Regions from separate parts of the Homo sapiens genome. Here region 1 is linked to region 2. Evidence: fine-mapped expression QTL. A gene starts in region 2. The other region holds a variant in brackets. All regions are shown on one strand. Distances are from middle to middle.

What was found.
Region 1: its variant is fine-mapped to the expression of RETNLB in transverse colon (GTEx, PIP above 0.99).

What each region holds. Positions count from the first base shown.
Region 1 is chr3:108,726,636-108,742,379 of GRCh38, reverse strand. LOC105374033 (a long non-coding RNA gene) reads left to right here and starts at 14,750. Exons shown (of 4, transcript XR_924321.1): 1 at 14,750-15,205. The variant T/G (reference allele first, on the strand shown) is at 6,723.
Region 2 is chr3:108,747,520-108,763,263 of GRCh38, reverse strand. It overlaps RETNLB (resistin like beta), which reads left to right and starts at 5,854. Exons shown (of 3, transcript NM_032579.3): 1 at 5,854-6,205; 2 at 6,676-6,756; 3 at 7,359-7,626. The coding sequence starts at 6,079. The coding sequence ends at 7,486. It overlaps LOC105374034 (a long non-coding RNA gene), which reads left to right and starts at 15,002. Exons shown (of 6, transcript XR_924323.2): 1 at 15,002-15,328.

The DNA of each region.
Region 1 (15,744 bases), 21 kb after region 2:
TTGGACTGAAGGATGCAAAGTATTGTTCCTGGGTGTGTCTGTGAGGGTGTTGCCGAAGGAGATTAACATTTGAGACAGTGGGCTGGGAAAAGCAGAACCACCCTCAATCTGGGTGGGCACCATCTAATCAGCTGCCTGCACAGCCAGAATAAAAGCAGGCAGAAGAACGTGGAAAAACTAGACTGGCTGAGTCTTCTGGCCTCCATCTTTCTCCCATGCCGGACACTTCCTGCCCTCGAACATCGGACCTCAAGTTCTTCAGCTTTGGGACTCTTGGACCTTCAACCACAGACTGAAGGCTGCACTGACGGCTTCCCTACTTTTCAGGTTTTGGGACTCGGACTAGCTTCCTTGCTCCTCAGCTTGCAGATGGTCTGCTGTGGGACTTTGCCTTGTAATCATGTGAGTCAATACTCCTTTATAGACTCCCCTTTATATATACATCTATCCTGTTAATTTTGTCCCTCTAGAGGACGCTCACTAATACACTTGGCTATTTTTTATTTTTATAGAGAAGAAGTATCACTAGGTTGCCCAGGCTGGTCTCAAACTCCTGACCCCAAGCAATCCTCCCAAAAACCCAAAAGGTTTTTACTTTTTTTTTTTTTTTTTTTGAGACGGAGTCTCGCTCTGTCGCCCAGGCTGGAGTGCAGTGGCGCCATCTTGGCTCACTGCAAGCTCCGCCTTCCGGGTTCACGCCATTCTCCTGCCTCAGCCTCCCGAGCAGCTGGGACTACAGGCGTCCGCCAACACGCCCGGCTAATTTTTTGTATTTTTAAGTAGAGACGGGGTTTCACCGTGTTAGCCAGAATGGTCTCGATCTCCTGACCTTGTGATCCGCCCGCCTCAGCCTCCCAAAGTGCTGGGATTACAGGCGGGAGCCACCGTGCCTGGCCTAGAACAAAGGAAATTTTTAAGAAATCTATACACTGTTTAGCAATCTTTGCTAATTTGTTATTCATGGATAAAGGTTGGGGAGGTTGTGCATTCCAGAAAGGAAAGAGAAAAAAAATTAAAGTAAGGCCAAAATGTGTGTATGTGTATGTGTATGTGTGTGTGCATTTAGTTCTCCTTACTTTGTATTCAAATGTTGAGTACACCCCACATAAGCTTTGGATGCTGCCCTTTAGATACCTAAAATAGCATAGGCTGTCCTCTCTTTACACTAGAATAGTGGTTCTCAACCAGAAAACTTGGAAATATCTGGAAACATTTTTGGTTGTCACACCTGGCAGAGGCAAAGTGATATTGGCATCTAGTTGGGAATAGACCACAAATGTCAAGAAACTTCATGCAATGCACAGGTAAAACCCCCACTGCCAACAAAGAATTGCCTTGCATGAACTGTCAATAGGGCCAAGGGTTAAGAAATCCTTCCCTAGAATGTGTGCTTCTATCATCAGACATCTCACTCAAAAGGAATACTATCCTTCTAGAGACCTCCATTCTGAAGCTAACATATAAGTGTCTACACTCCCTAATTCTCACAAAGGTTGCTTGTAACCTAAATCAAGGCACAATGGTAATAGGGAATCCCAACATTTTCCCAATAGCTGATGTTAACACTTCTGCATTACATACTAACAATCAGAAGCATATTTCTTACACATGCTTAAATTGGCCAGTGAATAAGTATCCGAAAGCTATTTTGAGGGGCAGATTTCCAATTCTGCAGAAACCATAAAACTGGCCCCAACAGGAAGAGATTTGAGCCACCAGTGAATTGTGTTTTATAGGGCTGTATGCCAACTGCTTTTATTCACTTGTGTGCTCTCTGAATGTTAGAAGCCAGCTTCTGCACATTTGTGCAGCAGAAACATAATGGGTACCATTTGGTAAGACATTGATAATGTAGTAAGCCATCATTCAGCCCTTATTTTTAGCTGTCACATATCCTACTTTTGAGATATTAAGTGTTAGTTTTAGCTAAATAAATCCCCTCTTAGGTGAGAGGGATTTTTATTTTTCCCTCTGGCAAATCCCATAAAGAGGAAATGCTGAAGCACATGATTGATCTGGGAAGGAATATGTTAGTGCTAAGGCTTGGACCTAAGCCCTGGGTATATGGCCTGGAGGTAGAAAAGAAGGCCCTTGATTATGAATAGAAACTCCTGTAAGGCCCTAAGTAGACTGAAAAGGCATCAGGAAGACAGTTCTATAAGGCCACAGGAGCTACTTGCCTAAGCCTCGAAGACTATTTGCATGACCCACGATATAATTTGAGGGAATCTAAGAAAGTTCTCGTTTTAAAAAATGTCCCTGTCTTTTCTGCCTCAAATGCTACCATTAGATTCACTTGTAAAGTGAAGGTGACCAGAAATCTCTGATTCTTCTAGTTAAATACACACATGCATAGAAAGGGTCTCACTTTGAGGCTTACCAGACAGTGTTGTTTGTATAATGGAAGGAACGATAGAAATTAAGGTAGAAAATCTACCAAGGCAAAGTTTACAGTATTCGCTTGGGTCAGCCCTGAAGCTCAGCCTTAAAGGAAGAAGAAAAGGGTAGAGAGGGAGAGTCATTCTCTAATGGTCAAATCTATCTGGGAGAGGGCACCACAGCTGAGGAGAAAGTGTTAGAAATGGTAGGGATGTGAGTATGTGCTTGTGGGAGGCCAAGAGTGAAGGGCTGAGGGAGAGGGAAGAGGAGGCTGAGCACCACCTGAGATTGAGTGTGCTTAGGTGCAAAAATTAGGTTGCCTCCCTCCACAGACTGAGAGTTTCATCAAGAAAAGTTATTATACATATGGCTTAGGGGCTTCACTAATTATGACAAATCCTAAAAGAAGAAGTTTGTGAACTCTTATTAGCCTATGATTGGTTGGCAGGATTAAGATGGACAAGCAGGAGGTTTCATAGGGGAGGAACTTGATGCAACACTTAATGGCCTGTTTATCTCATATAAGCAACGAACACCAGAGGCATAAGTAGGATAAGCACAGATGGTGAGTCAATTCAGTGGTTAATAACCCACTGACTGTAAAATTGTGTAAAATTGTACACTCCCAGAGAAAAATACACATTGGTAAACTATATTGGGTGTGGTCTCCTCTAACTAGAATTATTACACTTAAAAGAAAAATAGGGCCGGGCATGGTGGCTCACACCTGTAATTCCAACACTTTGGGAGGCCAAGGTGGGTGGATCACGAAGTCAGGAATTCAAGACCAGCCTGGCCAAGATGGTGAAACCCCATCTCTACTAAAAATACAAAAATTAGCCAGGCGTGGTGGCAGGCGCCTGTAGTCCCAGCTACTTGGGAGGCTGAGGCATGGTGGCGGGCGCCTGTAATCCCAGCTACTTGGGAGGCTGAGGCAGAGAATTGCTTGAACCCAGGAGGCAGAGGTTTCAGTGAGCCAAGATTGCACCACTGCACTCCAACATGGATGACAGAGTGAGACTCCATCCCAAAAAAAAAAAAAGAAAAGAAAGAAACCATCAGTCTTAATAATCATAATAATAGCTGCTTAAATTGTATAAAGTACCCACATATAATTTATGAAGACATTAAAAAGACTTACTGATGTAGCAGATTTTTTGAAGTATAACCAATACATTTTTGCTCCCACTAACAGCTGCTTCCTAGTTTTCCCAGTTTCCTCACCCATTGAATCATGGAGTCGTTTCTTAGATTTGATTCTGAACATTGACTTCTTTGAATCTCCAGATTCAAAATAGTGTTTACAAATCCAGATTTTCTGAAAGAGAAACTTTGAACTGAATTCATAAATCTTTTTTTAACTAAAAATAATTCAAAGTCTGATCTCGTAATCTTACAAAAAAACAATGTCCCATATCTCAATTCTGCCATGGAAAAGCCAAACATATTATTCATATTGTTTGTGCCATTCTTCTTCCAGTAGTGTGATTCAGGCATCAGAGTTGCCACCTCTTAGATGAAGTTTCCACTGCTCAAGTACCTGTCTCTCTTACACTGAGAAGAACTACAGATTTCACTCTGAGGATATCATCCGCAGGAGGGCGGTTATTGGGGTGGGAAATTGTATGGTGATGTTTGTCTTTGATCTGTTCTCAGATCTTTTATAGAGCTTTCCTTCCTCCCCTCTTCCACCATGTATGTTCCTGGACTTCAGTCCAATGTCGGCTCCTCGCAGATTCCTTACTTCTAAGGCTGTTATATTAGAAATAGGGATGTTATCGGTGGAAGGTATCTGAGTTACTGGCAATGAATTCTGCAGCAACATCAATTCTTGCCTCCTCAGAAGAAAGAATTTGACGGAGGGGCATAAGGCAGAAAAAGAGACCAAGGCAAGCTTCACAGCAGGAAGTTTATTTAAAAGGTTTTAGAATAGAAAAGAAAGGAAGGTATACCTGGAAGAGACCCAAGCAGGCACGTGAAGGTCAAGTGCGATGTTTAACCTTGATCCCAGGACTTTATAGGCTGGCCCACTTCCTGTGACTTGCACCTCTTTCCCATAATTCATCCCTTAGGGTGGGCTGCCCGCATGCACAGTGCCCTCCTTATGCTTGAGAAGTGAGTACACACAAGGAAGTTGTACACATGCCCCTTGGAGGTTTCCTTCCCTTTTCCAGTGATACTTCACCATCTTGCCTCTTAATGCTCTTGCCCTTGCTTACTTGCCCAATACCTGAGATTTTATTGGAATCCCCTTTTTGCTTCTCCCTGGCACCTGCATTCAATTCACACTTTACTGTTAACAGGTGTGGACCATTAGGAGATTGTCTCTCCCCAGTGCCCTTTGCCAATTTATCACTTTTAGAGAGGAAATGTGATGATAATTGCCAAGCCATCACCCAACAATCCTAGTGGGTGGGGGAGAGCCCTCTCCTGCCCCATTCATGCCTGTTTAGCTACCTGTGACAGGAAATTTAGCCATCATTGGCTCATTTTCTTGAAAGACTCAGATAGGATAGTGAGGACTGGTTGCTATTGCTTACGTACTCCATGTCACTAAATGAATCAAAACATTCTCTGCCTTGGACATAATGACGAATGCAATGTTATCAGATTCATAGTACATTTTGGGGGCAAAATATACTCAGTTTTGGGAACAAACATTTGCTTCTTTTTTATATGACAAAAATTATGAGAATTTTCTCTGTTACACCATATTTCAGGTTTCAGCACATGCTGAGGTCCGAGGGGAGTGGGTGGGTGGGTGGCAGATAGCTGAAAGAACACTCAGGGTCCATAAGCAGGTGAAATATATGGCTTTATTATGTTTTCTGTCTCCGTCAGCCTTTGTCTCGGCTGCCTGCTCTGGCTGCTGCCACCTGCACGCTTACAGCTGCACTCCCTGGCCTGCAAGGAGGTGACTCTCCCTTACAGAGTCAGCAGCTTAACCCTTTCTCTCTGTGGGAGCAAGCTGTATGTACAGCATCAACAAGGCAGTTATACCTGTTACAGACAATAGTGACTCAGAAGCAAGTATGAGCTTACACAAACAGGTTATGTAACAACGGAGTTATGTGTCTGTGCTCCAAACTCACCGAGTTACGCTGGTCCAGATGCCTGCCTCAGCCTACTATCAACTGCAGCATATTCATTTTCCTTACATTCTCCAAAGAAAAAAACAAAAAAACAAACAAAAAAACTTGATAAATTAGGTGACATCTAACCTACTTTTTCTTTAAATCCCATCACTTTACGATATACTTTAATGATTACAAACATAAGTTAAAGAACTGCAATATGAATCCACACATAATGGACTAATCTTTGCTAAAAAATCATGGAATGAAGATAAAGGAGAAAGATTACATAAGAGAATGTAAAAGGACGATAGAATACTCTAGGAAGGGAATAAAATAAAGATGGCATTACTGGTCTGGATAATATGACGTAACATGTTTCACCCTGCTACATCCTGCTAAGTAAATGATCAACCCTGGCAATAATGCAGGAGGCAACCAAAGGCAAATTCTGAACAGTGGAAGGCAAGGCAAACTGATTCTAGACCCCAGGGCTGGAAGAATAACATGTTGGTAGTGGTTATCACAAACCCCCACCCAACAGATGAAGGTCATCCGGGTCTAGCATTTTCTGACTTCAGCCTAGCAATGGAAGGTGACATAGGTAGGCTCTCGGTTTTCCTGGAATAAATAGTTGTCTCACTGAAATACTAGGTAAGCTCAGCAGTACTAGCAGTGGGGCATTTGGAAGCCCCAATGACAATTGACAACCAGGAGAATAACACCTTTTCCCCTGAGACCCCCCCGCAACCCATCAAGAGACATCAGGAGGAAAAGCAACACTAGCAGGAGGGATCCTGCCACAACAAGCAGCCAGCCCAGAAAGCTCTCTTCCCACATTGATAGGCACCAAATGGCCCAACCCGGGGAAACTTTCTCTTTCCTCTTAGGCAAAACCAGCAGCAAGCAACCCTATAGATCCACAGGGGTAGGAGTATGTGTAAATTCCTACGACCAGGGCACAATCCCTTAGGGTCTGGGAAAGAAACTGAAGAGGAGTCATTTCTTAGGACTAGGCTCTTCTTTAAGGTCCTCAATTAAAGAAGCCACAGGAAAGACACCTGGACACCTCTGCAGGGACAGCCCTTCTCTGAACAACAAAGATCAGTTGCAGGACCAAGGTAGCATTTGATGCTGAGAAAATCCTTTCTTCAAATATTCCTTGTGTTTTCTGGCTCAAATTCTACCATCAGTTTAATTTGGATAGGTTTAGAAATCTCTGAGTGCTCTAATAAATAAAAATAACTACTTTGGAGCCTTATCAAACAG[T/G]GTTGTATGCATAATGGGAAGGGCTGTGGAAACTAAAGTGGAAAAAAATCACAAAGGTAAATTATATTTATGACACCATTTACTTTGTGGTTCTCATGGAGCTAAGCCCTGAAGGGAAGAAGGGAGAAAGAGTAAGAATATGTCTACTACCAAGAGCTTCCTGAGAGAGGGAACTCTGAGGAGAAGATGATAGAAAGTGTGTGAAAGTGAGGATGTGCTTCAGGAGAAGACATGAGTAGATGGGGTGCACTTAGTGCTCTGAAGGCTGCTTGAGACAGAGTGTGCTTACATGAAAGGACCTAAATGAAAGGGCTACATTTCTTCCAAATACAGGCTGAGGAATTATCTGTGGGAAATGCTCTGATAAGCAAGATTTAAGTGGGGATACGGAAAGCATGGAAAATGTTTATTTAAAGAAGTCAAAGTCCCTAGGCAGCACTGGGACAGACCAGAAATAGGAATCACAGTGAGGGGAGGTGTTACCAGAAAGGGGTCCTGATATGGTTAGGCTTTGGGTCCTCACCCAAATCTCATCTTGAATTGTAATCCTCATAATCCCCATGTATTGAGGGAGAGACCAGGTGGAGGTAATTGAATCATGGGGGTCGTTTCCCCTATGCTGTTCTCATGATAGTGAGTTCTCGCGAGATGTGATGGTATTTTAAGGGGCTCTTCCCCCTTCACTCAGCACTTCTCTTTCCTGCTACCTTGTGAAGAAGGTGCCTTCTGCCATCATTGTAAGTTCCCTGAGGCCTCACCAGCCATGCTGAACTGTGAGTCAATTAAAACTTTCTCCTTTATAAATTACCCAGTCTCAGGCAGTTCTTTATAGCAGCATGAAAACAGAATAATATGGGTCCTGATTCAGGCCCCAAGATTGGGTTTTTAGATCTCACACAAGAATGAATTCGGGATGAGTCTATAGAGTAAATAAAAGCAAGTTTAATAGAGAAGCAAAGAACCAAAAGAGTGGCTACTCCATAAGCAGAGTGGCCCAGAGGGCTGCTGGTTGGCTATTTTATGGTTGTTTCTTGATTCTATGCTAAACAAGGAGTGGATTATTCATGAGTTTTCCAGGAAAGGGGTGGGCAATTCCCGGAACTGAGGGTTCCTCCTCCTTTCAGACCATATAGGGTAACTTTCTGATGTTGCCATGGTATTTGTAAACTGTCATGGCACAAGTGGGAGTGTCTTTTAGCATGCTAATGCCTTATAATTAGCATAAAATGAGCAATGAGGACCAATGGAGGTCACTCTCACCACCATCTTGGTTTTAGTGGGTTTGGGCTGGCTTCTTTACTACATCCTTTTATCAGCAAGGTCTTTGTACCCTGTACCTTGTGCCAACCTCCTATCTCATCCTGTGACTAATAATGCTTAACATCCTGGGAACACAGCATAATAGGTCTCAGCCTCATTTTACCCAGTCCCTATTCAAGTTGGAGTTGCTCTGGTTCGAACGCCTCTGGCAGAGGGACTTAAAGAAGCTAAGTTTATGCTCACCTGAAGAAGACAGAGCAAAGGTTTAAAGTAAGTAATAAAAACTGAGAGGCATGAGAAAATGCAACACTACAGTGGAAAATGATCAAATACATTGTTTAACAAATCATACAGACAATGTTTGTGCCTGATAATCTGTCAATCCAAGTGTGGGGAACAGGGAGCCTGGGGAAAAAGTAGTCAACTCTCAGCTTTGGGTTTCAAAACTGGCATCTTTGAATCCACAGTGAGGCAATATTCTTGACAGCAAGAATTTCCTGGAAAAGATAAGGGATGTTCTACATTCTAAAGCCTTGGCTTTACATAATAAGGACAAAGAGTATAGAGATTTACTTTAAACCATCAGGCAGATAAGATGAAGGTTACACTCTTGGGGAAGTCCTTTACCTTATTTAAAGAAGTCCTTTACCTTATTATTATTATTTTTTATTTATAAAAGCCCTTTTCTGCTAGAATATGCTTGGAGAGATTCAGAGGGCATAGAACTACATAGAGAAACTTCAAGAAGGGACCTCAAGTCATCTTCAAGGGGTCTTCACATACACGCATACTCCTGCCCTATTCTGAGCCGTGGCTCTTCAGAGCCAGGGAAGGATGATAGACATTTTGATAAAAATCCTAAATAAGCTCAGAGTGAATTGAATAACGTCCAGACTAGTGTTCTGCTCCCAAAATTGCCTGGGAATTGTAGAATAGTTAGGGAGAGGTAATAGATAATAATAGATAATCCTGAGATGGTTGGGGAGGGTCTGCAAATAGAGTATAGAAAATCCAAAAATATCAGTGATGGCAAATGGAAACGCTAGAAGGACAAGCAAACAAAAAGTTCCTGGAGTCTAGACCAGGAGGACACAGAATATGAGAAGTTCATAAATAAGATTCTGGATCAGGGATCCCCTCCCTCTGACACCAGGAAATTCTCCCTGTACGCAAACCATTTTTAGAAGACAAAAGGGAGCAGAGAACTCCTTGAGATAGAAGAGCCATGATTGGAAATTAGAACTTCAAAAGTGACTGATTATTTATCTAAAAGTTATTGTTTTTATTAGAAGTAGCTAAGTTTTTTTTTAATTGGCAAGACTATCAAAAATAAAGTAAAACGTGTCATTTGTGTAACAATGTATCATTCTTAAGCCCAATATACTGAAAAATGACTAAGATTCCTCTAAAGAGAATTATGTCCGTGTAAGACTAGAATTAAGTAAAGCATACCCATACCTGTGCAGGTTGGTGACACTCTTTGTGATCTCTGTTCATGTCTGAATTGTATTTGATGAGCTCACTCTTCAAAGTTCTTCATCTCCTCAGCCTATGCATTCTCTTTCACTTCTCACACAAAAGGAGTTCCCTATAACCAGTTAATGAAGAAGGAAAAAAATCTGTGTGTTATGCTGGCACTGCAGGAAAGCTACTGTACTATAGTCTCACTCAGGGCTGGCCCTGACTGACAGCAGTGAAGGAAAATCCTCCCAGAGAGCAGAAGTTTGGCTGGAACATTGGGCTGCCCACCACATTTGGAAGAAAAAGCAGCCGGAATTATGACCATACACACATTTGTAAACACCCCACAGCCTAATGAATTGGCCAATGACAGAAAAATGGTGACGAGGGAGACTACAGGAAAGGGAGGGAGATTTTAATAATCAGAATAAGGAGAGACATCCTGTAAACCCCCCAGTTTCCTCTCTCCCCACCAACTCCAGTGCTTGCTCAGTGGGAGCATGCACAAAGTGGTGATGGAAGCAGAAATGAAGAGCACCCTAACAGCATGGAATTCCCCTTACCAACGCTGGTCTGTTTAACACCGTTGCTGAGTATTCAACTTCCCAATGTCAGAAGTTAGTGCTAGGCCTCCAGTACAACACCAGTCCCCATAAGGTACCAGCTGACCACCTAGTAGCAGGTTGTTTATATCGGACACCTTTCATGATGGAGGATGCAACGCTTTACTTAAGTCCACAAATGATAATGCCTTATCATCACCATAGTATCCTATACATCACTTCTGTCTAGAGATCACATTTTATGTGTGGGAATTAAGGTGATGGGCTCATGCCCATAGAATTCACTAACTGTACCATGTATCCCATAACACAGAAGTACCTGGTTTGATGAATTAATGATATATTCTGCTGAAGTCTCAATTCTGTTGCCATCCTTCAAAATTGGGAGGCATTCCTGCAGAATGAGGTAAATGCCTTAAGCCAGCCCCATAGCCAGAATGCACATGTCTGGGAACTACAGAGTAGAGGTAGGAGCGTTTCCTACCTCTACTATTACATCAACACATTGGAGGATGTTTTTGTCTCACCTACAACCCTGAGCTCCAAAGAGTCCTAGTATCCAAAAGAAAAATGCTTTTGATAAGGAATAGAAGACATGGTTTCTGTGAATTGGAAGCTAAGACTGCTGCTTGATCAACTGGAAGATAAGACCGCTTCCAAGAACTATTGATTCTCATGCCACTGAGCCAATAAGCAAATAAGAGGGTTTCTGTATTACCTAGTGTATTGTATTGACTCCAATTATAAAGAAAAATTTGGTTGCTGCTGCAAAATAAGGCCAAAGAGGACCACCAGGGAGTCATTGGTGCACTTCTTAGTACTTTTGCCCAGTAGTCCTGAAAACCTTGGCAACTAAAGAAAGAGACACTAAAAAGTCAGATCCTACAGAAATGAAGAAGCAAAACAATTTTCCCCAGCAGGTAAAGAACTCTCTTCAGCTGAAGTCTGGCAGAGAGGGTAGGGAACACAAAATGTGTGGTGGAAAAGACGCTACAACTGTCAACCAAGGCCTCATGATGAGCTGCAGAAGCAGAGACATTAGAAGCTGTGTTTTATATTAATCAATGGTTTTTCTTCCTGATTTCTCCCCATTAACTTCTATGGGAAACACTGAGCGATGGGTAATGCTTTAGGGTTTAGTTTTCAGTGGAGAGGAGTATTTCAACCCAGGCTCCTTCCAGTCTCTGCTGGTCACTGTGTTCTTCTACCAAGGCCAGAGCTCCTGCCAAGTCTACATTTCTCCTGCCATGAGTCTGTCTCCTGGTTCCAGGATCTACTCCTCCCCGCTGACCCTTTATTAGGTTTTCCAGCCACTCAGCCGGCTAGTGTGTCCCATCTCTCTCCTGCTAAGGTCCTGACACACATAGATGCCATTAACAAGTCCCCCGACATGCAACAGGCTCCTTCCTTTGTATTTCAGGGGGGTAGAAAGGGTTCTTTTAAACCATTTATTACCTGGTATTATATAGGTTACTTTAGAAACTTTATAGAACTTATATATTCTAGACAATCATATATTTTAGACCTGCCTGCTCCCTCTGTTTACAAAAGCTCTTATTAATGTCTTCATTTCTATCACATTGCTACAAACAAAATTTGGTCCTTAGTGCTTCAAAAAGAATTACACTTAATGAGCAGCCACTGTATGCCCAGCACTATGCCAGGAGTTTTGCACACAGTTTATCATTTAAGTGTCACAGGAAAGGCAAATCCCCTCTTCTTGTTGCACAGGTCAAATATTTTGGAGACACCCTTGACCCCTCTTGTCTTCCTTATACCTGGCACATAGCGGACACTCGATGAATGCTTTGAATGAACCAATAAACAATGCTGTGGTGTAGATGTTACTTACATGTTGCAGAAGCAGCTGAGGGCCATTGAGAAATTTGCCTGAGGTGACACAGCTGGGAAGAGCCTGAGCTGAGAGACCCTAGCCTTGCTTTTTGTGTTTCTAATGTCACGTTTTCCCTTGGCCAGGATGCTCTCCAGTGTGGAGCTCCATTTTAGGCTCTTGACTGCTCTTTCTGACCCTGCCTTGGGTGTTGCAACCCACTGTGCCCATTGGTGTTAAGGTTCTCTTTCCTGAAATCTTGTCTTGACAAATTGTTCTCCTACTCAAAAACTTTCATGCCCCCCGCCCCTTAGTCTGCCTGCCAGACTAAGCTTACCACCTTCAGCTTTGCACTGGTGCCCTCCACAATCAATTTCAATTGACCCTTCCAACCGTATTTCCTAACCTTTCTCTAGAGAATCTCCATTCCATTGAAATGTGCCTTTTCCCTGGAGCTCTAATCCACTATGCAGTTCTTTTTTCCCTATGTATTTGTTCAACCCATTTCCTCTACCCAAAATGCCCTCCTGGCACCACTATCCATCCCCAATCCCTTATCCCTGCCTATAGAAAGCCACCTGTTCTTGAAGGCCAGGAGCAGACATCCCATCCCCCTCTGAAGCTCTCTCTGAATAATCTCAGTGCCAGATCCTCCAGAGTGCTTAGGACAGAAAGTTTTACATAGTAGAGGGTTCAATATTTTCTTATAAACTACATCATGCTCTGAAACTTAAATGAAGTACAACTGAGATCTGGGAGCTAATTACACAATCTTAGTATTGTGTATTTATTTCAGAGGTAAGACATACATGCTGTGTGGAGAGCATTGTCTTTGCAATTAGACAGATGGACCTTCAAATCTCATCTCTATTCATGATCTTTCATAAAGTTGGTTGATTTACTTAACCTTTAGAAATTTCAGTTGACTTTTCTGTAAAATGGGGATAATATTACCTTCTTGATAGAATTTTTATAATGATTAGATGGGGTTTTTACACTAAATGCCTGACACCATGATTGACACATAGAAAATACTCAGTAAGTGGATTACACTGGAGCCATCAGAAGCAGGTGAGCTATTATCATGGAATCAGAAAATCCTATACCCACAAGCACCCCAACAGTCATCCAGTCTCAGCCTGCCCTGCCGCTCTTCACCAGCCACCAACAGCAGGCTGATAAACACCAAAGATGTCACCATGATGGTTACAAGTGCCTTCTAAATGAATTTGTGGTTTGGATCACAACAAGTACCATGTAATTCTGACTGAAAGAGATACAGACTGCTAGAGTGTAAAGTGGATTGTCCCTAATTAGAATGAGCATGATCAGTTACCCAATCCTAAAAACTGACAGAACTTTTCAGGGCACAGCAATATCTAGTGGACCATCTACTAAAGGACTTCTTTATGACATGCACCACTGTTAATCATATTCATAAGCCCTTCCATCTCAGACGAGGGGTGATTGAAATGAGTGCTGGATGTCTGAGTAGAGCTGGGAAGATAACATCTTTCAGACACAGCAAAGGAAAGCCCCTTCAGATGAGTGAGCTTGAAAAGTCACCTGGGCTCAGATATATTTAAACTATGTTCTTGAGCTTGTAAATGTCTATGTTTACTGGGTATTGATTTAATGTCTTAAATATCCCAACTTATCAGGAATTGGACTGGATAGGTTGCTATGAGACTTGAAAAACTGGGGCAAAATGTAAGAAACTACCTATTATCTGATTGGCTGAATGCTCATCTTTAAGGGTATGATAGCATTAATATAATGTTCTTTTTATGTATGGGAGCAATGAATTCCATGGAGCATAAAAATAGTACCAACCCAGTCAATAAGGGACTAACAGTATTGAGGTCTGTTTCTCAACTGTGAACTTGTTCCATGACAGGTGAATTTTTGACTGAATTCCAGCCCAATAGCCTCAGAAGAATGGTTGGATGAGAGGTAATTGATGAGCATCAACTTCTGCAATGCTCCCAAGTACAAGGGCAGCTGAAATCACCACCTGGTTATGAATCACAGCCATGTCTAGCCCTTCAAATAAAAATGGGCTCTGGTATGAAAATTTGTCAGTTTGAGATATATCTCATACCTAAAAATGTCTCTAACCAACAGGAACATTACCACCATGAAAGTGGATATTAAACCTCTTTCCCCTGAGGCACTCTGAGTTCAGTGAGAAGACCATGGTTTCAATCAGAGCAATCTTAGGGATCATAAGACAAAATTGGAACCATCTGGGAATAACAAAAAATGTCAAAGAACAAAAATTACCAGGCTTAGGTGAAATCTTTGTAAAGTGCTGTGTGGCACACTGGCTTGGATATATGGCTTTTGCTTTGTGTTTTGTTGTAAGTACTTATCTTTGTTATGCATATTATGAATGCATATTATTTAATTGTGATGTCACAAGGTCATTGGCCTCAGGCTTTTGAAATAATTCTATTGCTATATCGTAGCTGAGGTTTTCCCGCAGAATGATCAGGGGATCATTTCTCATTGGCTAATCTAAAAATATGAAAAAAAAAAAAAAAAGCCAGAAATAATTGGGAGATTACAAACAACCTTGAAAAGAAAGATATGGGAGATGACCAAAATGAACTATAACATATATAGCATACATTATGGTCCTAGGTACAGAAAATGCTCTGTACTTCATAGTTAGATGTGCCAAGCTCTTTTTTTTTTTTTTTTTTTTTGAGACAGAGTTTCGCTTCTGTCGACCAGGCTGGTGCAACCTCCGCCTCCTGAGTTCAAGCGATTCTCCTGGTTCAGTCTCCCGAGTAGCTGAGATTACAGGTGTGCACCACCATGCATAGCTAATTTTTGTATTTTTAGTAAAGACGAGGTTTCATCATGTTGGCCAGGCTGGTCTTGAACTCTTGACCTCAGGCGATCCACCCACCTCGGCCTCCCAAAGTTCTGGGATTACAGGCGTGAGCCACCGTGCCCGGCCATAGCTCTTTGGTATGTAAGTTAGAACAGGCTAAGCAGTAGCAACCCCCTAATGATTTAGGCCACACATGGATGTGATAAGTCAGGAAAAAGGAGCAAGCCAAGATAGAGGACAGTGAGCTGCCCATGGCATACAAGCAACTCACATAACATCTGGGTAATGACTATAGAAGATGACTTTACTCCACCTGGAGCATCTGATTATACCTGGGCTCTTTGCAGTACATGTTAATGACCCAGACCACAAACAGAGTATCGTGGCCAAGCTGTTCTTGCACTGAATTATAAAAGAGACTTGAGGGTTTGTGCAAGCTGTTTGGCAAGACAAGGTTGGCTTGGAGTAAGAACTTCTGGAAATATCAGAAATGAACTCAGAAGAGAAGAAGACTAGGCTGCCTGAAGAGGTAAGTTCCACCCTGACAGAATGAGGCTCCTCCAAGAGGCCACTTCATAATGCTCCCTGCATTCTTTGTGGTACTCGCCTCCTGGAATACTCTTTGCAGGTACTATTGCACTGGTCAGGGAGTAAAGAGGCAAAGAGTCCTCATTTCTTGGACTGAAATGTTTCAGCTCAGCCCCTGCCTCTCTTTACTGAGATCTGATCAGTGACTGTACAATGTTCCTCCTACCATCTTTTCTTCTCCAAGCTGTCTACTGAAACCTCAGCCTCCTATAACCCGGCTAAAAGGCTTTTCAGCCCTTACTTTTCCAGAAGCATCCATCTTCCCAATTTTCTTAGTCTTTTCCTGTTCTGTCTCAGAACATAAAAAGTAAAGCTGTTTCTACTGTTATTCATTTTCACCCCCTTGAGCTGGTGGTTCCAGGGGAGGCCCAGCACATCTCAGGATCAGCTGTGGATGAGAAGATAGAGGCAACAAAGGATTCCCATAGTAAGAGACCTGGCATTTCCCCACCCATGCTCAGCTCCCTGGACTTCTGCCTC
Region 2 (15,744 bases):
TAACAGACTTGTACCTGATTGAAATCTTGATGGGTAAGGATCCTTTATGGTTTCACAGCTAATTGAAAGCATCAGCTCGTCGAGTTTTACAAACCCATTTTTTTTTTCTCTGCTTGATGATGCAGAACTCTGGGTCTTAATCAGGTTTTATACAACCCTTGCCCAGATTCCAACATCATTTCTTGGGGACATTTTATTCTGTCACCAAGAGAACCTATGGCTAATCTCCATTCAGGGGTAGGTCAGCTTCCTCTCTGAATGAGAAAACAAATCTGGATTCTCAATTTTTATGTCTTATATCAATTTGACTAATTTATTGTGTAGTATCTAAAGTATAGGAATCAACAAGATTCATTTCTGTAGAATATAAAAAATGATCAGCCCTTCAATGCCACATCAGAGAGTTCCTCAATTCTAGCCAAAAACATTCTGGAAACTTATTTTTTGGTCTCCTTTTTTTCCAGATACATCATGAGTTAAAAAAATTCAACCTATATTCAAATGTAATTAATGAACTAGAGATATATAATAACACATTATGTTCATGATAAAACATACAAAAATAGAAAATGTTTAATGAAAAACTAAATAAAAACAGAAGCTTTGATATTAACTTCTAAGCCAATGGATTGTCTTATGCACCTTCAGAATTCCACATTCTATGCTGAAGCCCTCTGCTCCCATGTATGAGAAGTCACAGGACTTAGTCATAGGACATGGTCACATCTGTGCCTTAGCTTAGCCTGAAACAGATGAGCCTGTTAGCTTCATCTCCAGCTTCTCTGCCTTTACCTTTCCCAGTTGCCCATACCCGGGTTTATGGTCCCTCTTTTTTTTTTTTTCTTTTTCAGCTGGAGCCCTATGCTAACAACTTCTCAAACTTTATGTGTATAAAATTAAATGAAATACAAAATAATCAGTGGAGAATCGAATGGGGGAAAGGAAATAAGATTTAAAAGGTCATTGTTATCTTTTCTGAGACACCTTCCCTGAACATCCTGCATTATGGACAATTACAGTTACCTCCACAGTTAGGTCGTTGGGAGAGGAGTGCAGTCTTAGGAAGAAGGTAGCTCTAAGGGAAAGGAGAATGTTTAACAGTCTCCACTGGGTTTATCTACAAATTTTGGAAGTAAAAAAACCTTTCTTTCTTCTCCCTGTATAGGGTTTTTCTGAACATTTTCCAAGAATGCTGAGGCAGAAGCTCTATGAGAGAATGACTAATCCCAGGCAATGTCCTTATACCATCAGCAGCGACTACCAAGGGTGGCGACGCTGGCTAGAAGCAGGGTGCATTATCCATAGAGAATTCAAAAGCAATAATAAAGCCTATAAAAGTTAATCTGCTTTTCATTATCACCATGCATGGCAATTCTAAGTAATATCAATGGTAAAATATTCCTCCCCCAAAACATTGTGAATTGAAGTTCTAAACAATTGCTGTGATTACTGTTGAGTTTTAACAATATATATGTAAACTTCAACTTAGTACATTTTTATTATTTATATTTTAATAAACATTGTGTTCTACATGAAAATTAATTCAGAGAACTTCCAGTTATACAGTTGGCCCCAACATACTTGGCCTCAGCTACACACCTTCATTTCTAAAGTAAGAGCATAACAATTCAATACCCAAGTTTGTTTCTAAAGGTTTGTCTCCAATCCCTGTGCTATTACATATTCCTGCCTTTAAACAGTAGATTCTAAAGAAATAATGTAGCCCAGTGATTGTAAAGACAAATTAAACCAACTTGAATTACAGAGCCATTTGATCATTCTATATGATTATGTGAAGTTTAATTGTGTTTAAAATTTATATTGAAACAGTGCAAACTGTGAGGTATATTTTTGTTTGGTAAGTGCAAATTTTAGTTCATATGTAAAATATTGTACTGAATTTAAATGATATATTTAAAATTAAAATTTATCCTTTCTGATAGTTAATTTTTTTGTTTTAATACCAGAGAATGAATCAAAAATAATAATTAGCTCTATTAGTAATCATTACATAATTATTACTGAAAATGATTTTTTTATATAAAGGACAGAAGTATTAAAAAGTGATCCCCTCTGGGTGTCAAGTATGCTAAACATGCCACTGACTACAAGTGTTCCCCGGAGGTGGCCACTATCCCTGCTGTCCAAGCTTATTGTAACCCAGGAGCACTCTTGAGCGTGCCTATCCTCTTCTCTTTCCTTGCTATTCCCAACATATTGATTAGTCAATGCAGCTTAATTCATGTTTCTAAACTTATATGTTTCTGCTCATCCACTGCCCAGTCTTCTGCTTTCTTTATGTGCTTCACTAAAAACAAATAGATTTCTTTTTTCCTATGAGAGTATCTCTGCACATAGATTCACCTGTGTACTGATTACTCACAAATTTATATCTCCAACTCTTACTGTTTCCCTGAACCCCAGATTTGTATACCTAACTCTGTATGCCACAGCTCCCCCTACATTTCTAATAGGTACATTAAATTGACTATGATCAAATATGATTTTATGTTCCCACCATATCTACTGTTCTCCCAGGGAACCCCATTTCAGTAAGTAGCAGCACTCTTCAATAAGTTATTCAAAACAAAACTCTAGATCTGTACTTCTCTATTTCTTCTACACCTTGCATACATCAGCAAACCCTATGGAGGCTCGGTTCTCACTCCTTCCTTGATTATTCTCCAAGACCTAGAACTCTGTAGAAGCCTGCTGCCTGCTTTCCCTGCTTACATCTTACCTGTTTTCCCTCCGCGGTGTCTCTTCCACAGTGGCCATAGTAAGCTTTATAAAACATTAATCAGGGCCAGGCACAGTGGGTCACACCTGTAATTTCACCTTTGGGAAGCGAGATGGGGGGATCACTTGAGCTCAGGCATTCAAGACTAGCTTAGGCAACATAATAAGGCCTTGTCTCTACAAAAAAAAATTTTTTTTTAAATAGCCGGGTGTGATGGCACACTATTATAGTCCCAGCTACTTGGAAGGCTTAGGCACAAGGATCACTTGAGCCCAGGAGTTTGAGGCTGCAGTGCCATGATCACACCACTGCACTCCAGCTTGGGCAACAGAACTAGACCCTATCTCCAAAAAAAAAAGAAAAATTAAACATTAGAAAACCATAAATCATTTTATGTCACTCCCCTGAACAAAACACTACAATAATTTGCTGTCAAATTTATAATAAAATCCAAAGCCCTTACATTGGCTTACAAGCTCTATATAATCTGGCCCTGGTCAGCTCTCTGACTTCTTCTCTGGCCTTCCCCCTATACTTCATTCTGGCCATATTGCCATTGTTGTCATTCTTTCAACACACTAACCAACTCTCTGCCGTGGGCTCTTTATACTTGTTCCACAGGCTAGAACATTTGTCCCAGATTTTCCTGTGACTCACCCCCTCACTTCTTCAGGTCATTGTTACCTTTTCTGAGACACCTTTCCTGAACATACTGCATTATGGGCAATAGCACAGTGGCACACTCTATTGCCTTGTCTTGACTTATTTTTCTTTACAGCATTTCTCAATACTTGACCATATATACATACATATGTATGTATACACATACATACATATGTATGTATACACATACATACATATGTATGTATACACATACATACATATGTATGTATACACATACATACATATGTATGTATACACATACATACATATGTATGTATACACATACATACATATGTATGTATACACATACATACATATGTATGTATACACATACATACATATGTATGTATACACATACATACATATATATATGTATATATATACATACATATATATATATACACATACATACATATATATAAATACAGTATATGTATATACACTGTATTTATCTCCCCCATTACAAAAGGGCAAAGAGCTTGTCTACGTTGTCCACCACTGAGTCAGCAGAGCTAGAGCTGGTAAAGAGAAGCTCTACAAATTTTCATTGAATTAGCAAACAATTAATCAACCCATCATGTATCCCAAATCCAAGTGTATGCTCTTTCTTATTCTCCAGTCTCATTTTTCTTCTCTTCAACTCCTGTCTGGTAATTGAGGAAGCATCCTTGCCTTTTTGCTGGCATCTCCAGGCCTCATTTCTCAAAGTTGCCTGAGAGAGATATGTATAAGTAATAGCTGTTCATTAGAGGGCATCTCCAGGAAAGTGGGCAGAAAGGCTGGTCACAGAGGTAGAGCCCAGCCTTTCCAGCTCTGACTGCCTCAAGGAATAGTCACCTAACTGCCTTTTTCTGCTTCTCATTTTATTTTATTTTATTTTATTTATTTTTGAGGCAAGGTCTTGCTTTGTCATCCAGGCTGGAGTGCAGTGAAACAATCTCAGCTCACTGCAACCTTGAGGCTCAAGTGATCCTCCTGCCTCAGTCTCCTAAGTAGCCGGGACCACAAATGCATGGTACCACTCCCAGTAAATTTTTTTTTTTTGATAGAGTCTCACTATGTTGCCCAGGCTGGTCTTGAACTCTTGTGCTCAAGAGACCCTCCTGCCTCAGCCTATCAAAGTATTGGAATTATGGGCATGAGCCACAACACATGGCCCCTTTCTCTGCTTCTTCATCTGCACTTCTTTAAATTTTATTTATTCATGGTGGCCACATGCCCCATCCTAGATGAGGAATCATGGCATCCTCATTCCTCTTGGCCATATGTGAATCCTCAAAGTCCTCAATCCCTTATCCATTATTCTAAAATCTAAAAGGCTCTAAAGATGAAAATGTTCTGTCCTAAATTTGAGGCTAACTCATTTGGCAGAAAAACTTGGCATGGCCTGGTGTGAGGCTCTTTATGGTCTTTTATTTATCCCACATTAATATTCATACATTTTGCATCAGGCTATTTATGCATTAGACTGCAGAGTGCTGCCCCCAACCTCCTTGGTGGTTTAACATAATATACAGAATTTGCACCTTCCATAATCTGAAACATTCTGAGTTCTGAAACATACCTGGGCCCCAGGTCTTGGATAAGGAATTGTGAAGCCCAGCTCTCTTTTTCAGCCATAGCTGATAGAAAGGGAGGTTGTGTGACCCAGAACCAAACAGTGGAATGTAAGGGGAAATCTTCTTGAGCTTCTAGAGAAAGATCTTGCTCTTAAAATAAAAAGGTAAAGCCCCTACAGAAAGTGGCCTTGCCCCACTCCTTCCTTCCTGCTCAGGGTCTGGGCTGAGGATGTGGCACCTTCTACCTTGTGACCATGAGGAGACAAGATCGAAAGATTAGCTGAGAATGGTGGGGGAAAAAGGGAAACTTTATGAGCCCCCAAAAGAACTCTGGAATCATAAACCATGCTTCTAGTTAAGTAAATACTGAACTTCCTTATTTTTAATCCAGGATTAATTAGTCTTTCTGTGACTTTCCTCCAAATGAGATTGGCCAGGGACAATAAAATGGTGTCTGAACAGGTGACAAGTAGGGCCCTCCCTCAGCCAACAGAGATAAGAAAGAGCATACACTTGGGTTTGGGATAGATGATGGGTGGATTAATTTGTTTGTTAACTGCAAAGTAACCTCTTCCTGATGAAGGATCAAACAAGAAGCCTATAATACCGGCAGACCACAGAAGGCCCAGGTGCTAGCCTTATCGGGTTGCCAAGAAGAAAGGAGAAGGAGAACAAAAAGGCAGGAGGACTCCCTTGGCAGAGATCCAGAGCAAAGGCAGCTGTTGCTTCTCATGAACACTCCAAAGTTTATCACAGTCACCTGTTACCCTAGCTGGCACAGGTCTTTGAAAGTGTGCTGGGAGTGTGTTTACATGTTTGTGTGTGCTTGTATGTTAAAGGTGCCCAGGTTAATACCAGGTGTATTAAAACGCCCTTGCCTGGCTAGTCCTTGTAGACCTTCTCTGAATGTTTTGGTGAATAAATCTGTTCTTCAGCAACCCTACCTGCTTCTCCAAACTGCCTAAAGAGATCCAGTACTGATGACGCTGTTCTTCCATCTTTACTCCCTGGAAACTAACCACGTTGTCTTCTTTCCTTCACCACCACCCAGGAGCTCAGAGATCTAAGCTGCTTTCCATCTTTTCTCCCAGCCCCAGGACACTGACTCTGTACAGGATGGGGCCGTCCTCTTGCCTCCTTCTCATCCTAATCCCCCTTCTCCAGCTGATCAACCCGGGGAGTACTCAGTGTTCCTTAGACTCCGTTATGGATAAGAAGATCAAGGATGTTCTCAACAGTCTAGGTAACTGACTGGGGTAGGGGAAGCGGGGGGTTGACCCTTGCTCATTTCTCCTGTTCTTAAACTCTAGCTTTGTCTCTATCCCATCCCAAGATCCCAACCAAGCCCAACCCCTGATGAGGGCTTTCTACACTACCCTACCCGTGTTTGAAGTCTTGGCTAAAAGCTGAGGTTTTCCTGATGAGGAGGAAGAGGTGGAGGAGAATGGTAGCTGTAATTTATGAACACTCATTATGAACCAGGTATAATCCAAGTTTTACGTAGATTATTTCATTTAATTCCCACAACCATTTTATGAGGTAAGGACAACTATTACTTCTGCTTTAAAAATGAGGAAACTAACCTTAAAAGCTGATGAGTAGGCTGATTCTGGACACAGTGTCACCTCCAAGGTAGAAGACAATTTGGAAGGGGATAAGGGGATTATGGGGAGGATAGCTCATGGGATGTACCCTTTCTTCTTTCCTACTCAGAGTACAGTCCCTCTCCTATAAGCAAGAAGCTCTCGTGTGCTAGTGTCAAAAGCCAAGGCAGACCGTCCTCCTGCCCTGCTGGTGAGTAACTCCCTGAGAGGGAATGGCGACTACGATGCCCTGTATCCTCCCCTGTCCATCTCCCTGCACCTACGTCTTCCCCCATGTCAGGTCTGTATCACCCTGGCACCCTGGGGCTGAGTCATGACTCTTGGTTCCCAGAGACCCCTTGCCCATTCTTGTTTCCCTGAAGGATGCTACTGGGGGATCTTGGGCTTCTGCCTCTTCCTTTCACCCCTTCACTTCATGCCCCTGTTTCTCAGCCCTTCCTCTCCTCCATTGTCCCATAATGATCACATACTTCATTTCTCTTTCCAATCTATTCCTCTGTTTTGATGGGTAGGGGCCAACAGAGAGGTGAATTTATCACAAATCGAAGAAAACTGAAACTCCCAAGTTCCAAGTCTCTCACTTGCATGAGTCTCTTTCATGGCAGCAAATATTTGTTTCTGTGATTTCTGTATTTCTTTTCTTGAAATGAGCTCGCAAAATTGAATGAGCTTGAGGCCCCACGAAACCTAGCTCTACCCCTGACTGCACAGGGTTGAAAGATGGTTGTGGGTAGCCCTTCCTCCTCTTAAATTCCAAGAGCTCTGATGTCTGTGCTTCATGTGCTCATGCAGGGATGGCTGTCACTGGCTGTGCTTGTGGCTATGGCTGTGGTTCGTGGGATGTTCAGCTGGAAACCACCTGCCACTGCCAGTGCAGTGTGGTGGACTGGACCACTGCCCGCTGCTGCCACCTGACCTGACAGGGAGGAGGCTGAGAACTCAGTTTTGTGACCATGACAGTAATGAAACCAGGGTCCCAACCAAGAAATCTAACTCAAACGTCCCACTTCATTTGTTCCATTCCTGATTCTTGGGTAATAAAGACAAACTTTGTACCTCTCTGTGCTTATGTCATCTCTGTTATTGTCCCCAGCTTGGGGCTCCCCTATCCAGAAAATGTTGTCAGTGTCCCAGTGGTGACATCTCAGTTTGGGAAGTGGGATGGGAAGTTAGGAAAGATATGGGAAGAATGGGAAAAACAAACTGACACTCCAAACCCCCACTTCCCTCATTTTTATTTATTTATTTATTTATTTTTTTCTTTTTTTTCATTTTTTTTTTTTTTATTATACTCTAAGTTTTAGGGTACATGTGCACATTGTGCAGGTTAGTTACATATGTATACATGTGCCATGCTGGTGCGCTGCACCCACTAACGTGTCATCTAGCATTAGGTATATCTCCCAATGCTATCCCTCCCCCATCCCCCGACCCCACCACAGTCCCCAGAGTGTGATATTCCCCTTCCTGTGTCCACGTGATCTCATTGTTCAATTCCCACCTATGAGTGAGAATATGCGGTGTTTGGTTTTTTGTTCTTGCGATAGTTTACTGAGAATGATGGTTTCCAATTTCATCCATGTCCCTACAAAGGACATGAACTCATCATTTTTTATGGCTGCATAGTATTCCATGGTGTATATGTGCCACATTTTCTTAATCCAGTCTATCATTGTTGGACATTTGGGTTGGTTCCAAGTCTTTGCTATTGTGAATAGTGCCGCAATAAACATACGTGTGCATGTGTCTTTATAGCAGCATGATTTATAGTCCTTTGGGTATATACCCAGTAATGGGATGGCTGGGTCAAATGGTATTTCTAGTTCTAGATCCCTGAGGAATCGCCACACTGACTTCCACAATGGTTGAACTAGTTTACAGTCCCACCAACAGTGTAAAAGTGTTCCTATTTCTCCACATCCTCTCCAGCACCTGTTGTTTCCTGACTTTTTAATGATTGCCATTCTAACTGGTGTGAGATGATATCTCACTGTGGTTTTGAGTTGCATTTCTCTGATGGCCAGTGATGATGAGCATTTCTTCATGTGTTTTTTGGCTGCATAAATGTCTTCTTTTGAGAAGTGTCTGTTCATGTCCTTTGCCCACTTTTTGATGGGGTTGTTTGTTTTTTTCTTGTAAATTTGTTTGAGTTCATTGTAGATTCTGGATATTAGCCCTTTGTCAGATGAGTAGGTTGTGAAAATTTTCTCCCATGTTGTAGGTTGCCTGTTCACTCTGATGGTAGTTTCTTTTGCTGTGCAGAAGCTCTTTAGTTTAATTAGATCCCATTTGTCAATTTTGGCTTTTGTTGCCATTGCTTTTGGTGTTTTGGACATGAAGTCCTTGCCCACGCCTATGTCCTGAATGGTAATGCCTAGGTTTTCTTCTAGGGTTTTTATGGTTTTAGGTCTAACGTTTAAATCTTTAATCCATCTTGAAATGATTTTTGTATAAGGTGTAAGGAAGGGATCCAGTTTCAGCTTTCTACATATGGCTAGCCAGTTTTCCCAGCACCATTTATTAAATAGGGAATCCTTTCCCCATTGCTTGTTTTTCTCAGGTTTGTCAAAGATCAGAAAGTTGTAGATATGCGGCATTATTTCTGAGGGCTCTGTTCTGTTCCATTGATCTATATCTCTGTTTTGGTACCAGTACCATGCTGTTTTGGTTACTGTAGCCTTGTAGTATAGTTTGAAGTCAGGTAGTGTGATGCCTCCAGCTTTGTTCTTTTGGCTTAGGATTTACTTGGCGATGCGGGCTCTTTTTTGGTTCCATATGAACTTTAAAGTAGTTTTTTCCAATTCTGTGAAGAAAGTCATTGGTAGCTTGATGGGGATGGCATTGAATCTGTAAATTACCTTGGGCAGTATGGCCATTTTCACGATATTGATTCTTCCTACCCATGAGCATGGAATGTTCTTCCATTTGTTTGTGTCCTCTTTTATTTCCTTGAGCAGTGGTTTGTAGTTCTCCTTGAAGAGGTCCTTCACATCCCTTGTAAGTTGGATTCCTAGGTATTTTATTCTCTTTGAAGCAATTGTGAATGGGAGTTCACTCATGATTTGGCTCTCTGTTTGTCTGTTGTTGGTGTATAAGAATGCTTGTGATTTTTGTACATTGATTTTGTATCCTGAGACTTTGCTGAAGTTGCTTATCAGCTTAAGGAGATTTTGGGCTGAGACGATGGGGTTTTCTAGATACACAATCATGTCGTCTGCAAACAGGGACAATTTGACTTCCTCTTTTCCTAATTGAATACCCTTTATTTCCTTCTCCTGCCTAATTGCCCTGGCCAGAACTTCCAACACTATGTTGAATAGGAGTGGTGAGAGAGGGCATCCCTGTCTTGTGCCAGTTTTCAAAGGGAATGCTTCCAGTTTTTGCCCATTCAGTATGATATTGGCTGTGGGTTTGTCATAGATAGCTCTTATTATTTTGAAATACGTCCCATCAATACCTAATTTATTGAGAGTTTTTAGCATGAAGGGTTGTTGAATTTTGTCAAAGGCTTTTTCTGCATCTATTGAGATAATCATGTGGTTTTTGTCTTTGGCTCTGTTTATATGCTGGATTACATTTATTGATTTGCGTATATTGAACCAGCCTTGCATCCCAGGGATGAAGCCCACTTGATCATGGTGGATAAGCTTTTTGATGTGCTGCTGGATTCGGCTTGCCAGTATTTTATTGAGGATTTTTGCATCAATGTTCATCAAGGATATTGGTCTAAAATTCTCTTTTTTGGTTGTGTCTCTGCCCGGCTTTGGTATCAGAATGATGCTGGCCTCATAAAATGAGTTAGGGAGGATTCCCTCTTTTTCTATTGATTGGAATAGTTTCAGAAGGAATGGTACCAGTTCCTCCTTGTACCTCTGGTAGAATTCGGCTGTGAATCCATCTGGTCCTGGACTCTTTTTGGTTGGTAAACTATTGATTATTGCCACAATTTCAGAGCCTGTTATTGGTCTATTCAGAGATTCAACTTCTTCCTGGTTTAGTCTTGGGAGAGTGTATGTGTCGAGGAATGTATCCATTTCTTCTAGATTTTCTAGTTTATTTGCGTAGAGGTGTTTGTAGTATTCTCTGATGGTAGTTTGTATTTCTGTGGGATCGGTGGTGATATCCCCTTTATCATTTTTTATTGTGTCTATTTGATTCTTCTCTCTTTTTTTCTTTATTAGGCTTGCTAGCGGTCTATCAATTTTGTTGATCCTTTCAAAAAACCAGCTCCTGGATTCATTGATTTTTTGAAGGGTTTTTTGTGTCTCTATTTCCTTCAGTTCTGCTCTGATTTTAGTTATTTCTTGCCTTCTGCTAGCTTTTGAATGTGTTTGCTCTTGCTTTTCTAGTTCTTTTAATTGTGATGTTAGGGTGTCAATTTTGGATCTTTCCTGCTTTCTCTTGTAGGCATTTAGTGCTATAAATTTCCCTCTACACACTGCTTTGAATGCGTCCCAGAGATTCTGGTATGTGGTGTCTTTGTTCTCGTTGGTTTCAAAGAACATCTTTATTTCTGCCTTCATTTCGTTATGTACCCAGTAGTCATTCAGGAGCAGGTTGTTCAGTTTCCATGTAGTTGAGCGGCTTTGAGTGAGATTCTTAATCCTGAGTTCTAGTTTGATTGCACTGTGGTCTGAGAGATAGTTTGTTATAATGTCTGTTCTTTTACATTTGCTGAGGAGAGCTTTACTTCCAACTATGTGGTCAATTTTGGAATAGGTGTGGTGTGGTGCTGAAAAAAATGTATATTCTGTTGATTTGGGGTGGAGAGTTCTGTAGATGTCTATTAGGTCTGCTTGGTGCAGAGCTGAGTTCAATTCCTGGGTATCCTTGTTGACTTTCTGTCTCGTTGATCTGTCTAATGTTGACAGTGGGGTGTTAAAGTCTCCCATTATTAATGTGTGGGAGTCTAAGTCTCTTTGTAGGTCACTCAGGACTTGCTTTATGAATCTGGGTGCTCCTGTATTGGGTGCATAAATATTTAGGATAGTTAGCTCCTCTTGTTGAATTGATCCCTTTACCATTATGTAATGGCCTTCTTTGTCTCTTTTGATCTTTGTTGGTTTAAAGTCTGTTTTATCAGAGACTAGGATTGCAACCCCTGCCTTTTTTTGTTTTCCATTGGCTTGGTAGATCTTCCTCCATCCTTTTATTTTGAGCCTATGTGTGTCTCTGCACGTGAGATGGGTTTCCTGAATACAGCACACTGATGGGTCTTGACTCTTTATCCAACTTGCCAGTCTGTGTCTTTTAATTGCAGAATTTAGTCCATTTATATTTAAAGTTAATATTGTTATGTGTGAATTTGATCCTGTCATTATGATGTTACCTGGTGATTTTGCTCATTAGTTGATGCAGTTTCTTCCTAGTCTCGATGGTCTTTACATTTTGGCATGATTTTGCAGCGGCTGGTACCGGTTGTTCCTTTCCATGTTTAGCGCTTCCTTCAGGAGCTCTTTTAGGGCAGGCCTGGTGGTGACAAAATCTCTCAGCATTTGCTTGTCTATAAAGTATTTTATTTCTCCTTCACTTATGAAGCTTAGTTTGGCTGGATATGAAATTCTGGGTTGAAAATTCTTTTCTTTAAGAATGTTGAATATTGGCCCCCACTCTCTTCTGGCTTGTAGGGTTTCTGCTGAGAGATCCGCTGTTAGTCTGATGGGCTTTCCTTTGAGGGTAACCCAACCTTCCTCTCTGGCTGCCCTTAACATTTTTTCCTTCATTTCAACTTTGGTGAATCTGACAATTATGTGTCTTGGAGTTGCTCTTCTCGAGGAGTATCTTTGTGGCGTTCTCTGTATTTCCTGAATCTGAACGTTGGCCTGCCTTGCTAGATTGGGGAAGTTCTCCTGGATAATATCCTGCAGAGTGTTTTCCAACTTGGTTCCATTCTCCACATCACTTTCAGGTACACCAATCAGACGTAGATTTGGTCTTTTCACATAGTCCCATATTTCTTGGAGGCTTTGCTCATTTCTTTTTATTCTTTTTTCTCTAAACTTCCCTTCTCGCTTCATTTCATTCATTTCATCTTCTATTGCTGATACCCTTTCTTCCAGTTGATCGCATCGGCTCCTGAGGCTTCTGCATTCTTCACGTAGTTCTCGAGCCTTGGTTTTCAGCTCCATCAGCTCCTTTAAGCACTTCTCTGTATTGGTTATTCTAGTTATACATTCTTCTAAATTTTTTTCAAAGTTTTCAACTTCTTTGCCTTTGGTTTGAATGTCCTCCCGTAGCTCAGAGTAATTTGATCGTCTGAAGCCTTCTTCTCTCAGCTCGTCAGAATCATTCTCCATCCAGCTTTGTTCTGTTGCTGGTGAGGAACTGCGTTCCTTTGGAGGAGGAGAGGCGCTCTGCGTTTTAGAGTTTCCAGTTTTTCTGTTCTGTTTTTTCCCCATCTTTGTGGTTTTATCTACTTTTGGTCTTTGATGATGGTGATGTACAGATGGGTTTTCGGTGTAGATGTCCTTTCTGGTTGTTAGTTTTCCTTCTAACAGACAGGACCCTCAGCTGCAGGTCTGTTGGAATACCCTGCTGTGTGAGGTGTCAGTGTGCCCCTGCTGGGGGGTGCCTCCCAGTTAGGCTGCTCGCGGGTCAGGGGTCAGGAACCCACTTGAGGAGGCAGTCTGCCCGTTCTCAGATCTCCAGCTGCGTGCTGGGAGAACCACTGCTTTCTTCAAAGCTGTCAGACAGGGACAGTTAAGTCTGCAGAGGTTACTGCTGTCTTTTTGTTTGTCTGTGCCCTGCCCCCAGAGGTGGAGCCTACAAAGGCAGGCAGGCCTCCTTGAGCTGTGGTGGGCTCCACCCAGTTCGAGCTTCCCGGCTGCTTTGTTTACCTAAGCAAGCCTGGGCAATGGCGGGCGCCCCTCCCCCAGCCTCGTTGCCGCCTTGCAGTTTGATCTCAGACTGCTGTGCTAGCAATCAGCGAGATTCCGTGGGCGTAGGACCCTCTGAGCCAGGTGTGGGATATAGTCTCGTGGTGCGCCGTTTCTTAAGCCGGTCTGAAAAGCGCAATATTCGGGTGGGAGTGACCCGATTTTCCAGGTGCGTCCGTCACCCCTTTCTTTGACTCGGAAAGGGAACTCCCTGATCCCTTGCGCTTCCCAGGTGAGGCAATGCCTCGCCCTGCTTCGGCTCGCGCACGGTGCGCACACACACTGGCCTGCGCCCACTGTCTGGCACTCCCTAGTGAGATGAACCCGGTACCTCAGATGGAAATGCAGAAATCACCCGTCTTCTGCGTCGCTCACGCTGGGAGCTGTAGACCGGAGCTGTTCCTATTCGGCCATCTTGGCTCGAGATCCTCATTTTTAAACAAAAAGATGGCTGTGCCAGACATACTGCTTGGCAAGGGGTAAAGAGAAATAAAATAACACACCCTTACAGAGCTCACCAACTAGAATAACAGGCTCCGAGCTATGTGTGAGATTTTTCAAGGGATGGGCAAGCAGGGGTAGCTTTAAGGGAATCTATTTCTAGATTTTCAGTGTGCATATGTACTCTTTACTAAATTCAAGTGCCTGAGACGTGCTTTGATCAAGGTGACTTCTTTCACCATTGCCTTTCTCCCACATAACAAAAGAAAACCACAGCCCTCACCTGTCACTGAATCTTATTATCCTGGGGTATAAAAATCTGCAGAATGCCAAACAAGAAGTGATTAAAAATATGGGCATCCACAATGAGTGTATGAATGATCCAGTGATGGGGTAACAAGTCCTTTCACGGCTCGGGAGGCTTCCATGGTTTGGTCTTTATAGGATTGAAGGAGGATATAATGCAATTGTCAATTGATGAATCACCAAAAATAATTTTTAATAATAAGTTGGTGTGTGAGATTGTTGACAAGTCATTCAAAAGGAATTCAGACAAATTGAACGGCATTACTACAATAAACACTTTTTCTTTCTATCTACTTAATTATAAAAAGTAGACATGTCAAAGCTGGCAATTATGAAAAGAAATAGTAAGAATGGCTGGGTGCGGCGGCTTATGCCTGTGATCCCAGCACTTTGGGAGGCCGAGGGGGTGGATCACTTGAGGTCAGGAGTTCGAGACCAGTCTGGCCAACATGGTGAAACCCTGTCTCTACTAAAAATACAAAAAAATTAGCTGGGCGTGGTGGCTCATGCCTGTAATCCCAGCTACTTGGGAGCCTGATGCAGGAAAATTGTTTGAACCTGGGAGGCGGAGGTTGCAGTGAGCTGTGATCGTGCCACTGCACTCCAGCCTCCAGCCTGGGCAACAGAGCAAGACTCTGTCTCAAAAAAAAAAATGCTAGGAATATAATGGTTCTAGACTGTATGTCACTCTAGCGAAATGTCCATGAGTATATAAACTACTTGGGTGGGAGGAGAAGCTCTTTCTCATTTAAAAAAATATAGTTATGAAATATTGTTTGGGTTTATTAATTACTTATAAAAATTTGTTATAACTGCTCTGTTCAAATATGCACTGTTAATTATTATAATAATAGGTATACTCTTATTTATAGCTGCTGCAGTGAGTCTTTTAGAATAGAAAGCAGATAATGTCACCTTCCTGTTCAAGTCTAGTGACTTCCACAACATGAAAAAATAAAATCTCAAGGCCAACTAAATCCTGCATTCCCTGGTCACTGGCTATATCTCTAACTTCATTTGTAACCCTTGTTCACCCTGGCCATATCTGCATTCTAGGTATTCTCTGTCATAGCCACCCTCCCACCTTGAGGCCTTCCTACGTCCTGTCTCCCAGATAGTTACACAGTTCTCACACAAAAGGTCAGTGCTCAATTTTTTTCAGAAAACCTTTCGCATCACCTCTAACTCTTGCCCTGTTTTTTTTTTCATGATGCTTCTCAGTGTTGACTTCATATTCTATTTATGAGTGTATTAACTATCTCTTGCATTGGAACATGTAGTCCATGAAAGAGAAAACTTTGCCTAACTTGCACACCATTGACTCCCCAGTGCATAGCACAGTGCCTGGCCCATGGAGGAGCTATAATGAACAATGCGCCTGCTACTGGGTCTAGCTCTGAGTCTGAGTCAGCTCCCTCTTTTGCTTTCTATTCCTCTTCTTTTACCTCAATCCTGGTCATTGAGGAACAAATGTTGTTTTAATGGAGATCCTTGGGTTTAATTCTCAAAGTGTCAGTAGGAGAAATAGCTGTTCATTAGAGGGCACTCTGAGAAAG